Linked DNA regions of Homo sapiens: region 1 is linked to region 2. The links come from fine-mapping of genetic effects on gene expression. A gene starts in region 2. The other region holds a variant in brackets. All regions are shown on one strand. Distances are between the middles of the regions.

Region 1 (5,369 bases), 61 kb before region 2:
CTGGAATGCAGTGGTGCAATCATAGCTCACTTCACCCTCTATCTCCCCAGCTCAGGCCATTCTCGTCCCTTAGCCTCTGGAGTAGCTGGGATTACAGCACACACCACCATCCCCAGCTAATTAAAAAAATTTTTTTTCCTGTTGCCCAGGCTTGAACTCCTGGGCTCAAGTGATCCTCCTGCCTCAACTTCCCAAAGCTCTGAGATTACAGGTATGAGCCACTGCACCCAGCCAATTTCTTGACAGTGTATGTCACTTTCACTGGGCACTGGGTTCTTCCAGGATTGTGGCTTTGACTTACTTAATCTGTTATGCTGCAGGGGTGCCCCTGTTGCTGTTCTCCCTTCTTCTGCAGTAATTGGGACCTGTTTTTAGCAAGGCTAATGGCCTCCCAAAGTCCTGACGTGTCTTAGTCTAGCTTGCAGCTAGGGGTGTCCAAGCAACAAGGTTCTGGCCAATGCATAAGGAGGGAGGTGGTGTGAGCAACTTCAGTGAGACCTTTCCTGGAAGAAGCATGCCCTCCGCTTCTCCTCCTTACCCTGCTGGCTGGAACATAGACATGGTGGTGTACCCCATAGGACCATGTGGAAAAAGGTAACTCCCTAGAAATGCCAGAGCCCCCCCAGAGAGCGAGCCATGGTCCCTGACACCCTGAAGCTGCCACATCGGCTTTGAACTGCTTCCCCGCTGAATGTTCTGAGAGGCACTAAAACCTCTTTTCTCGTTAAGTCTTCCTGCAGCCTAATATAATCCATACTAATAGCCATGCCTAACATGCTGACCGACCTTAGTACGTGCTTAATAAATGATGGTTGAGTTATTAAATCAATGACAAAGAGAGAAATACTCAATGCCAGCATTTATCACATTGACACTGCATATTCTTTCTAGCTCCTCTCTACATACAGTCGATATTTTAACAGAGGTATAATTAGAGCAGAAATAGAATTTTATATCCAGCATTTCCCCAGTAATAGTAATTACGTAATAAACATTTTCCATGTCAAGTCCTTGTATCATCATTCTAAATGAATGTGTCATTTTCTTTTCTTTCTTTTTTTTTTTTTTTGAGATGGAGTCTCACTCTATTGCCTAGGCTGGAATGCAGTGGCGCGACCTCAGTTCACTGCAACCTCCACCTCCTGGGTTCAAGCGATTCTCCTGCCTCAGCCTCCTGAGTAGCTGGGATTACAGGCATGCACCACCACACCCGGCTAAGTTTTGCATTTTTAGTAGAGATGGGGTTTCGCCATGTTGGCCAAGCTGGTCTTGAACTCCTGACCTCATGTGATCCGCCCGCCTCAGCCTCCCAAAGTGCTGGGATTACAGGTGTGAGCCACTGATCAACCATAATTTACGTAACCACCCCGTTATTCTTCGGTATATACATTTTCCCCATTTTTCCTAATTATAGAGAATGCTACAAGAAAGTTACTTATGACTTTATGACTATTCTTTTGCCTTTTCCTTTTGACAAGTCCTTTGAGAATGGGATTGTTGCCTTTTCTAATATTTTAGAACTCTTTCTACCTTCACCGGCCACTCCTGTTTCATAATTGCCAATTAAATTGTGAACAATGGTCATGACGGGAATAACAATTACAGTAACAACAGCTGCTGGTTACTGATCACTGACTATGTAACCATATCATGCTAGGCACTTTTCATCTTTTTGTTTCACATATCCGCATATAGCTATACATACTTTCTCTCTCTCTCTCTCTCTCACACACACACACACAAGCATGGGAAGTGGTAGTTAAAAGTGCGAATTCCAAGGTCAGACTAAATTCAAATCTTAGTAAAACAGCTTCTTCACTATGAGACCCTGCATAAATTACTTAACCTCTCTGTGCCTCCATTTCCTCATCTATAAAATGAAGATAGTAATACTTTCTTTATAGGGTAGCTATGAGGACTAAATGAGATAACACAATAATAGCTGGCATTTCTTGAACACCTACTAGGTGCCAAGCACTATGCTAAATAAAGGCTTTATGTTAATTCACTTATTTCTTGCCAGATTATAGGAGCTAAGTATTTTCAGCCTCATTTTGCAGACAAGGCACCTGAAGCTCAGAAGGTAAAGACATACCTGCCCAACCTGCAGGGAGCTGAGCAATTCTCACCTGGGTCACACTGACCTCACAGTCCCAGGCTCCTCCCAAAAGGATTCTTCTCTTTAAGCAGTCTCAAACGCTCAATTTCTCCAGCATAATCTCTCCTTCCGCCCCCATTCCCATCCCACAAGGTGCAGCCTTCTTTCAGGTGTCCCCTCCCCGCCATCACTATTGCAGCATAGAATGCCACAGAAGCTCAGTTAGGAACAATCCCCATTTATCAAGTGCTTCCTCTGGGCCAGACCCTGTGCTTGGTGCTTTATATCATTATCTCATTTAATCCTCAGACAGTCCTGGA[A/G]CATAAGCACCATTACCCCCATGTTACAAGTGAGGAAACCCAGGCCCAGAATGCTGGAGCAAACTGCCCAGCGTTGCAGGGTCATTGCATTCAGGAGCTGAGACTCCCAGTCAGGCTGAGAAATGCAAGTCTAGCATCTTGCCACCCTCACCCACAGCTGCCTGGGATGGTGGTTCCCAGGGGATGGGGAAGATCGTGTTGTGATGGTTCCAGATGGCCTGATGGTTCCCCCTGCCTGAGGGCAGCCATGCAGAGAGTGCCAGCACAGCGTCCACTAGAATCTCCCTGCCTCTCAAGGCCCAAGGCCCTAGGCCCAAGGCAGGGCCGAGATCCAAGGGAGAGCGGTCGGACGGGCTTTCTGTGCCGCCCCTGAAATAGCCAGCTCAGCTCCCCAGCTCCAGCTCTGCAACTGCAGGCGGATCCCGGAATAGCTCTTTCCTCCTGCAAGGTGACCTAGTTAGCAGGTTCCTCTTGTCATGTGAGGTTGGCTGAGCAAGACATTTACCTACCTCTGTCTACCCAGAAAAGCCTGATCCGACACTTTCCTCTCCTCCTTCCCCCGATGCTGTTCCTGATTCTCCCACGGTTCACTCATTCTAGAAGTCCAGGGAATGGATGATAATGCACTAAGCGTGGTGCTTCAGGGCCTCAAAGCATGTTCACAGACATTATCATACTTCCTTCTTACACCAGGCTTGGAGGGCGAATCTATTATCAACCCATTTCACAGCTGAGGAAATAAAGGTGCAGAGAGGGTAGGCAACATGAGCAAGGACACACGGCTGGGAGGAGGCAAAGCCAGGATCTGGACCCAGGTTCCTGAAACTCAGACCAGTGTCCCTGCAGTGCTTTGAGTTTCCCTGGTTTTATGCACCTCTCTGAGGAGCCCCAGTCACTAAGCCTTCCTCACCTATCCACTGCCTGTGTTGGACCTCCTGAACACCTATCTGGTTGTAGAACTGGGTGCAGAGGTTGAGATCAAGGACTTGGAGGTCCACCAGCCTCAGGGTGGAGCTGGGATTTGAGTTTCAGCATTTATCAGCTCTGTGGCCTCAGGCAAGTTGCTTTGCCTGCCTGAGACTCAGTTTCTATATCTGTAAAATGGGCATAATAATCATACCTGCATCCTAGGGTTTCTATAAGGATTAAATAAGATAGGGTACATAAAGTGCCCAGCAGCTTCCTTTCATTTTGCATATTTTTGATAAAATAGCTATTGTTGTCCAGGCACAGCGGTACATGCAAGTAATCCCAGCACTCTGGGAGGCCCAAGCAGGCAGAGGGTTTGAGCCCAGGAGTTTGAGATCAGCCTGGGCAACATGGCGAAACCCCATCTCAGCAAAAAATACAAAAATTAGCTGGGTGTGGTGGTGCACACCTGTAGTGCCAGCTACTCGGGAGGCTAAGTTGGGAGGATCACTTGAGCCTGGGAGATTGAGGCTGCAGTGAGCAGAGATCACTTCACAGCAATCCAGCCTGGGTGACAGAGTGAGTTCTGTCTCAAAACAAACAAACAAACAACAACAACAAAAAAACTATTGTTGTTATTATTATTGACATCCTGAATTTAACCCAAAAAGGAGAAGCTTAAGATGGGCTAGTGCCAATGAAGAGTTGCTGTAGTAAAGGTTGTTATGACTATTCCCATGCCATCATGCACAGGCCTGGAAGAAAGAGTCATATTGACAATAACACAACTCCAGCATATGGCAGTTTCTTCTGAAGTGTTGGCCCCTTGTTCCACTGGATGGCTGCTGGCTCCCTGTAGGAACCCACTGCAGGAGAGGAGAGAGGTGTGGGCAGCCTTGGCTGTCACCCTAGGGGTGCTTATTCACTCTGCAAGTGTCACATCCCACTGGCAGGGGGCATAGAGAAGTGCAGGGTGCCTACTCCGGTGATCCCTGGGTGCTGTGGGTCGTGCAGAAGTGAAGATGCGGAAGGAGATTAGGGGCAGGTCTGGGGACCCCTGAAGACCATGATCAAATTATGTAAAGGCAGAAGTGGCTGAGGGCTAGTGAGAACGAAGCTGGACTTGGGGGATCAGATGCTGCATTCAAATCCTTCCTCCACCACTCCTTATATGTGAGCCCACAGATAAGTTGCTTAACTGCTCCAAGCCTCAGTTTACCCATCTGTAAAAACTGGGCATAATTTGAACCTCATGGGAAGGTGGCGAGGCTTGGATGAGTTACCTACGTGTTGCACCAGCACAGTGATAGGCATGACATGGGGGCAGAGTACATGTTTGAGAATTTGAATTTGAAGTCTAGCCAAGCCCCAAGACCCAAGGTACCATCTTAGGAATTTGGAAGAAGAGATGAATGTGGTCTGGAGTAAACAAAGAAGGCTCCAGAATGATAGCATGACTGGCCTTGGGTCCTGAAATCTAAGTATAACAAGGATGCTGGAGAAGCTTGGGGAGGCCATTCAGACAAGAGGTCCAGTGGGAGGAATGGGCATGGCACACAGACAGGACAGTCGCTTTCCGTCACACCCCATGGAAGGTTTTTTTTTTTTTTTTTTTTTTTAGAAAGAGTCTCATTCTGTCACCCAGGCTGGAGTGCAGTGGCACAATCTTGGCTCACTGCAGCCTCAACCTCCCAAGCTCAAGGGATTCTCTCACCTCAGCTTCCCAAATAGGTGGGACTACAAGCATGCGCCACCACGCCTGGCTAATTTATACATATAAATACACATTATGTATATACATGTGTGTATATATGTGTGTATATATGTGTGTGTGTGTGTGTGTATACATATACACGCACAAAACTGTAGAGACCAGGTTTCACCATGTTGCCCAGGCTGGCCTCAAACTCCTGGGCTCAAGCAATCCACCCACCTCAGCCTCCCAAAGTGTTGGACCATGCCTGTCTCTCAGAAAATTCAAACTCTTCACCATGGCCTTTCCTCTGTGACCTCTATTCCCAGCCCTTCTGGTCACCGCACTC
Region 2 (5,369 bases):
TGAGCCACCATGCCCGGCCTAAAGAACTTCTTAAACATTAGTTACACACACATTTTTTTTTAAATGGAAAATCATCTGGTGGTGCAATGGCTCCCAAATGCTGGTGACCTAAGACCAATGATGGCAGAATAATTTTTTGTTTGTTTTGTTTGTTTTTTTTTGTTTTTTGAGAGAGGGTCTCCCTACATCACCCGGGCTGGAGTGCAGTGGTGTGATCATAGCTCACTGTAGCCTCAACTTCCCAGGTTCAAGTGATCCTCCCACCTCAACCTCCCAAGTAGCAAGGACTACAAGTGCACACCACCATGCCAAGTTAATTTTTTATTTTTTCAGAAACAGGGGTCTCAAACTCCTGAGCTCAAGGGATCTACTTACCTCGGCCTCCCAAAGTGCTGGGATTACAAGCGTGAGCCACTCACCTGGCCTGCTTGTTGATTTTTTTGAGACAAGATCTCTGTCGCCCAGGCTGGAGTGCAGTGGTGCCATCATGGCTCACTGCAGCCTCCACCTCCAGGGCTCAGCTAATCCTCCCACCTGAGCCTCCTGGGTAGCTCAGACTACAGATACATGCCACTATGCCCAACTAATTATTTAACTTTTTGTAGAGACACGGTCTCACTATGTTTCCCAGGCTGGTCTTGAGCTCCTGGGCTCAAGCAATCCTCTCACTTTCATCTCCCAAATTGGGCAGATTTTCCGTCTTTATCAAAGCCCCCACTCACCCACCCCTTACCCCCCACATCTCCAGATAAGTGTGAGGCATGGCCAGGTTTAAGAATTTCTGTGAGAAGCCTTACCTGTAGAGAAAGATTCAGGAGAATAAATTCCAGGGTGTAGCTTTTTACACTTTGCAAAAATGTGACCACACCCATGGTCATTTATCACTACCCACAAGCTCTCAGGCTGACCAGGCAAGATCACCGTCTCCCTTTCACAGAGCAGAAAGCTGAGGCCCTGGGGAATCAAGTAATACTCCCCGCTCAACACTCAACAGTCACAGCTGGTTGGTGGTGGAGGTCACACACCTGTGGGTGGCAGAGATATGATTAGAACTTGGGCCTCTGGCTGGGCGCAGTGGCTCATGCCTGTAATCCTAGCACTTTGGAAGCCTGAGGTGAGAGGGTCACTTGAGGCCAGGGATTCGAGATAAGCCTGAGGCCCTCCTCACTCCCCCACGCCGCCCCTCCCCCCCGCTCCCTTCTCTATTTAAAAAAATAAGAAGAAAGAGGGAAGAAAAGACCTTGGGCCCCTGAATTCTCACTCTAGGGCTCTCCCCTCTACATCAACTGGATAAACCCAAGTTCCAGGAAGTCCCAAGGATGCCACAGGTCGGGGGAAGGTCAGAGAAGGGAGAGAGAGTGTCAAATGCGTGGAGGGTAAGGTTCTGGGAGGCTGTCTCCTGGCCACAGGAAAGACTCCAGTTGCCCTAAGGACTTGGAAAACACATGGCATTCACACGCTAACTCTGGCTGCCTGTGACCTCAGGACAGCCACTTTCTCTTTGTGTGCTTCTCCTTATCACTGAAATGGGGCTGATAATCCATGCCCTGCCCCCAACAAAATACTTGTAGAATGTAAAGCACTTTAAAAGTCCAAGTTATTATTGCTGTTATCAAGAGAAGGCCCTTTGGGACAGAACTTAAATAGCCTTGGCCGGGCGCGGTGGCTCACGCCTGTAATTCCAGCACTTTGGGAGGCCGAGGCGGGCGGATCACGAGGTCAGCAGATCGAGACCATCCTGGCTAACACGGTGAAACCCCGTCTCTACTAAAAATACAAAAAAAATTAGCCGGGCGTGGTAGCGGGCGCCTGTAGTCCCAGCTACTCGGGAGACTGAGGCAGGAGAATGGCGTGAACCCGGGAGGCGGAGCTTGCAGTGAGCCAAGACAGCGCCACTGCAGTCCAGCCTGGGCGAAAGAGCGAGACTCCGTCTCAAAAAAAAAAAAAAAAAGAACTTAAATAGCCTTTCTTTCATCTAAGGGACACTTTTGAGCATCTACCACATACCAGGCACTGTGCTAGGCACTGTGCACACATGCCCTCACTTACCCCTCACAAAGGGTCAGTGCTGCTGTTCTTTACCTTTTACAGATGAAGAAACTGAGGCTCAGCTGAGAGTTGCAATTCATTCCATCATTAGTTCATTCACTCAGCTTTTACTAAAAGCCTGCTCTGGGCCAGGCTCTGGGCCAAGTGCTGAGAAGAAGAAGATGAACAAGTCCTTCAGGAGACGTGCCCATAAATTAATAACAACTAAGTACATGCTTCAACAGACAAGGTGCAGTGGGAACTAGAGGGGGAGCAACAGGCTCTCCTGGGGGTTATGGGAATGGACAGCTGACCTCCTGCGGGGACCCTGCACCGCTAAGGTGCATGCGCCCTGTGTAGCTGTGCAGTCTCACTTTGATCAAGGCTTTGCTGTGTATTTCCAGGAAGCCTCTTCCGCCACTGAGCCTCGGTCTCTACCTGGAAAGTTAAAAGGTTGCGTAGGCCTGACATCCTGCAGCTCTTGGGGGGCCTAAAACTCTGGCCCTCCCACCCCACCTTCTGGTCAGTTCAAGCTCTACCCCAGCCAAGTCCGATTCCGAAGCCCTGAGGGCCAGACCGAATCCCTCCGAAAGTGCCAAATACCCCGCCCCAGGGCGGTGCTCAGAGCCTGGGGCGTGGCCGGAGTCCCAAGGGGCGGGGTTCCAGTGGGAGGGGCGGGGCCAAGACCTAGATGCAGGCGTGCGCGGCCCGCCCAGAAGCGTCTCGCCCAGCCAATGAGCGTCCGAGGGCGGGGAAGCCCCGCCTCTGGGTATAAGAATACGCCGAGCCCAGCTACGCGACGCGGAGGTTTCGGAGCACTACAGGTTGCGGGCCTTTGTGACCCCAGGCTGCGGCCGCAAGGTGCGCAGTAGTGGGCTGGGCCGGGGCACCAGTCGGGTTTGGTTTTGCTCCGCCCGGCCGAGCTGCAGGGACCGCACGGTGCCCGGGTCTCCCGCCGCAGAGCAGCCGCTGGCCCGGGCCGGGGGAGCCGGCGCTGACCACCGCGCGCTGTCCCCGCAGGCAGCCGGCCTGCCGCCATGGCCGACCACCTGATGCTCGCCGAGGGCTACCGCCTGGTGCAGAGGCCGCCGTCCGCCGCGGCCGCCCATGGCCCTCATGCGCTCCGGACTCTGCCGCCGTACGCGGGCCCGGGCCTGGACAGTGGGCTGAGGCCGCGGGGGGCTCCGCTGGGGCCGCCGCCGCCCCGCCAACCCGGGGCCCTGGCGTACGGGGCCTTCGGGCCGCCGTCCTCCTTCCAGCCCTTTCCGGCCGTGCCTCCGCCGGCCGCGGGCATCGCGCACCTGCAGCCTGTGGCGACGCCGTACCCCGGCCGCGCGGCCGCGCCCCCCAACGCTCCGGGAGGCCCCCCGGGCCCGCAGCCGGCGCCAAGCGCCGCAGCCCCGCCGCCGCCCGCGCACGCCCTGGGCGGCATGGACGCCGAACTCATCGACGAGGAGGCGCTGACGTCGCTGGAGCTGGAGCTCGGGCTGCACCGCGTGCGCGAGCTGCCCGAGCTCTTCCTGGGCCAGAGCGAGTTCGACTGCTTCTCGGACTTGGGGTCCGCGCCGCCCGCCGGCTCCGTGAGCTGCTGAGGGCGGCCGGCGCCCGCCCGGCGTGCCGGAGAGGAGAAAGGGCCCGACTGCCCGCCGGACCCTGCACCCAGCGACTGGGCCCCGCGCGCGCCCTCCGCGAGGGTGGAGGCGGCGGCTGTGTGCGCAGGGCCCGGCACCGGACTGGGACCCTGGCGTCCCTCCAGGCCTTGCCTCCTGCGGGAGGACAGTTTGGCTTCACTTCTCTGACCCCAGCCTCGGCCGTAAAGTGAAAGAGACCGGACCAGCTTCAGCTTTCGGACTCTGGTTCTTGGATCGTGTCCTCTCCCCCTCGCCGCCCTCTTCCCCCAATCTGAGCCATTGCAGGCCTCTGCCTGCTGCCCCCTCTCTCCTCGGGATCGGGTCCCCAGAGCCACCATCTCCTGAGCCTCCCACCCCGCTGCCTGGGCCCTGTGGTTGCTGGGCCTCCCACCTCAAGGAGGGGAAGGTTGTACAGCCCGAACCCGTGGAGCAATGCCCTGTCTGGCCTCCAAAACCAAAATAAAACTGGGTCACTTTACAGTCTTGCCGTTTTCATTTCCTTATCACCCCGAGCCCTGACTATATTTAGCTTCCAAAGTCCCAAGGTTGCTGAAGACACTGGATGGCATGGGGGCCACAGTCCCCAGCAGTGCCCAGGAGAGGAAACCGACAGTTTCTTTCAAAAATATCTCGTGGGTTGTGCAATTGTTATGTCACAACCTGGAGGGCAGAGGCTGCCACTGGGTGGTGGGGTAACCCACTGGGCTTCCCAGCTCCTAGGGTAGGGTGGGGGGAGCTTGGTGCTCTGCCAGAGAGGAGCTGGGTGGCACCGAGTTCAGACAGCCTAGCTTTGGACCCTGACTCTCTCCTTTGCCCAAGACACCATCCGTTCTGATTTTTGAGGCGGTTTCCCAGAGGGAGATGGTCCCCGTCTCCTCAGGTAGTTACGCTGCCTTTAGCACAGTGCCAAATACCTGGGCAGTTCTCAGTAAGTGACGGCAATTATTATTCTACAAATTGGTGCTGATTTTATTCCAGGCCCTGTGTCAACCTGGTGCATGTTCTCATGGAATCACAGCCCAGGTGGGAGGAGGTGGGTGATAGGCCTGAAAACAAACTAATCTTGCTGCAAGGAAGACTGTGATGAGTTCTAGAAAACAGTGCTAAGCAGCACTTTGGGAGGCCGAGACGGGCAGATCACGAGGTCAACAGATCGAGACCATCCTGGCTAATATGGTGAAACCCCGTCTCTACTAAAAATATAAAAATTAGCTGGGCATGGTGGTGCGCGCCTATAGTCCCAGCTACTCGGGAGGCTGAGGCAGGAGAATCGCTTGAACCCAGGAGGCAGAAGTTGCAGTGAGCCGAGATCATGCCACTGCACTCCAGCCTGGCAACAGAGCGAGACTCCTCAAGAAAAAAGAAAATAGTTCTGGGGGGGATTGTACAGCCAGGACAATAGACCGGCCAAGCGGGCACACCCAGAGAAGGGAGCAGTTTCAGCTATTAATAGTTGAGGTTGGGGTCAGTTCAGGCTTCAGGGAAGCGGTGACATTTGACGTGATGAACAGAGCCTTGAGTGATGAATATGTTTTTAGGAGAGGAGCCTGTTTCAAGGCAGGAAGGCACACAAGTACGATGAATGTTTGGGGAAGGTGTGGGGTGTCTAGAAGGTACAAGAAAGGTCGAATGGCTTTACGACAACTTCGTGAGGCAAGCACAGTCCTCATTCTACACATGAGGGTTGTGGAGTGTGCCCAGGCCTGGCAG

The links.
Region 1: its variant is fine-mapped to the expression of CITED4 in whole blood (INTERVAL, PIP above 0.99).

What each region holds. Positions count from the first base shown.
Region 1 is chr1:40,920,598-40,925,966 of GRCh38, reverse strand. No RefSeq gene overlaps it. Among named protein-coding and RNA genes, the nearest start is that of CTPS1, 56 kb to the left of the region's middle. The variant A/G (reference allele first, on the strand shown) is at 2,419.
Region 2 is chr1:40,859,824-40,865,192 of GRCh38, reverse strand. CITED4 (Cbp/p300 interacting transactivator with Glu/Asp rich carboxy-terminal domain 4) reads left to right here and starts at 2,830. Exons shown (of 1, transcript NM_133467.3): 1 at 2,830-4,139. The coding sequence starts at 3,066. The coding sequence ends at 3,620. It overlaps LOC124904157 (a long non-coding RNA gene), which reads right to left and starts at 2,809. Exons shown (of 3, transcript XR_007066025.1): 1 at 2,083-2,809; 2 at 798-1,025. RefSeq lists enhancers at 1-20, 2,444-2,503 and silencers at 2,604-2,803, 2,964-3,043.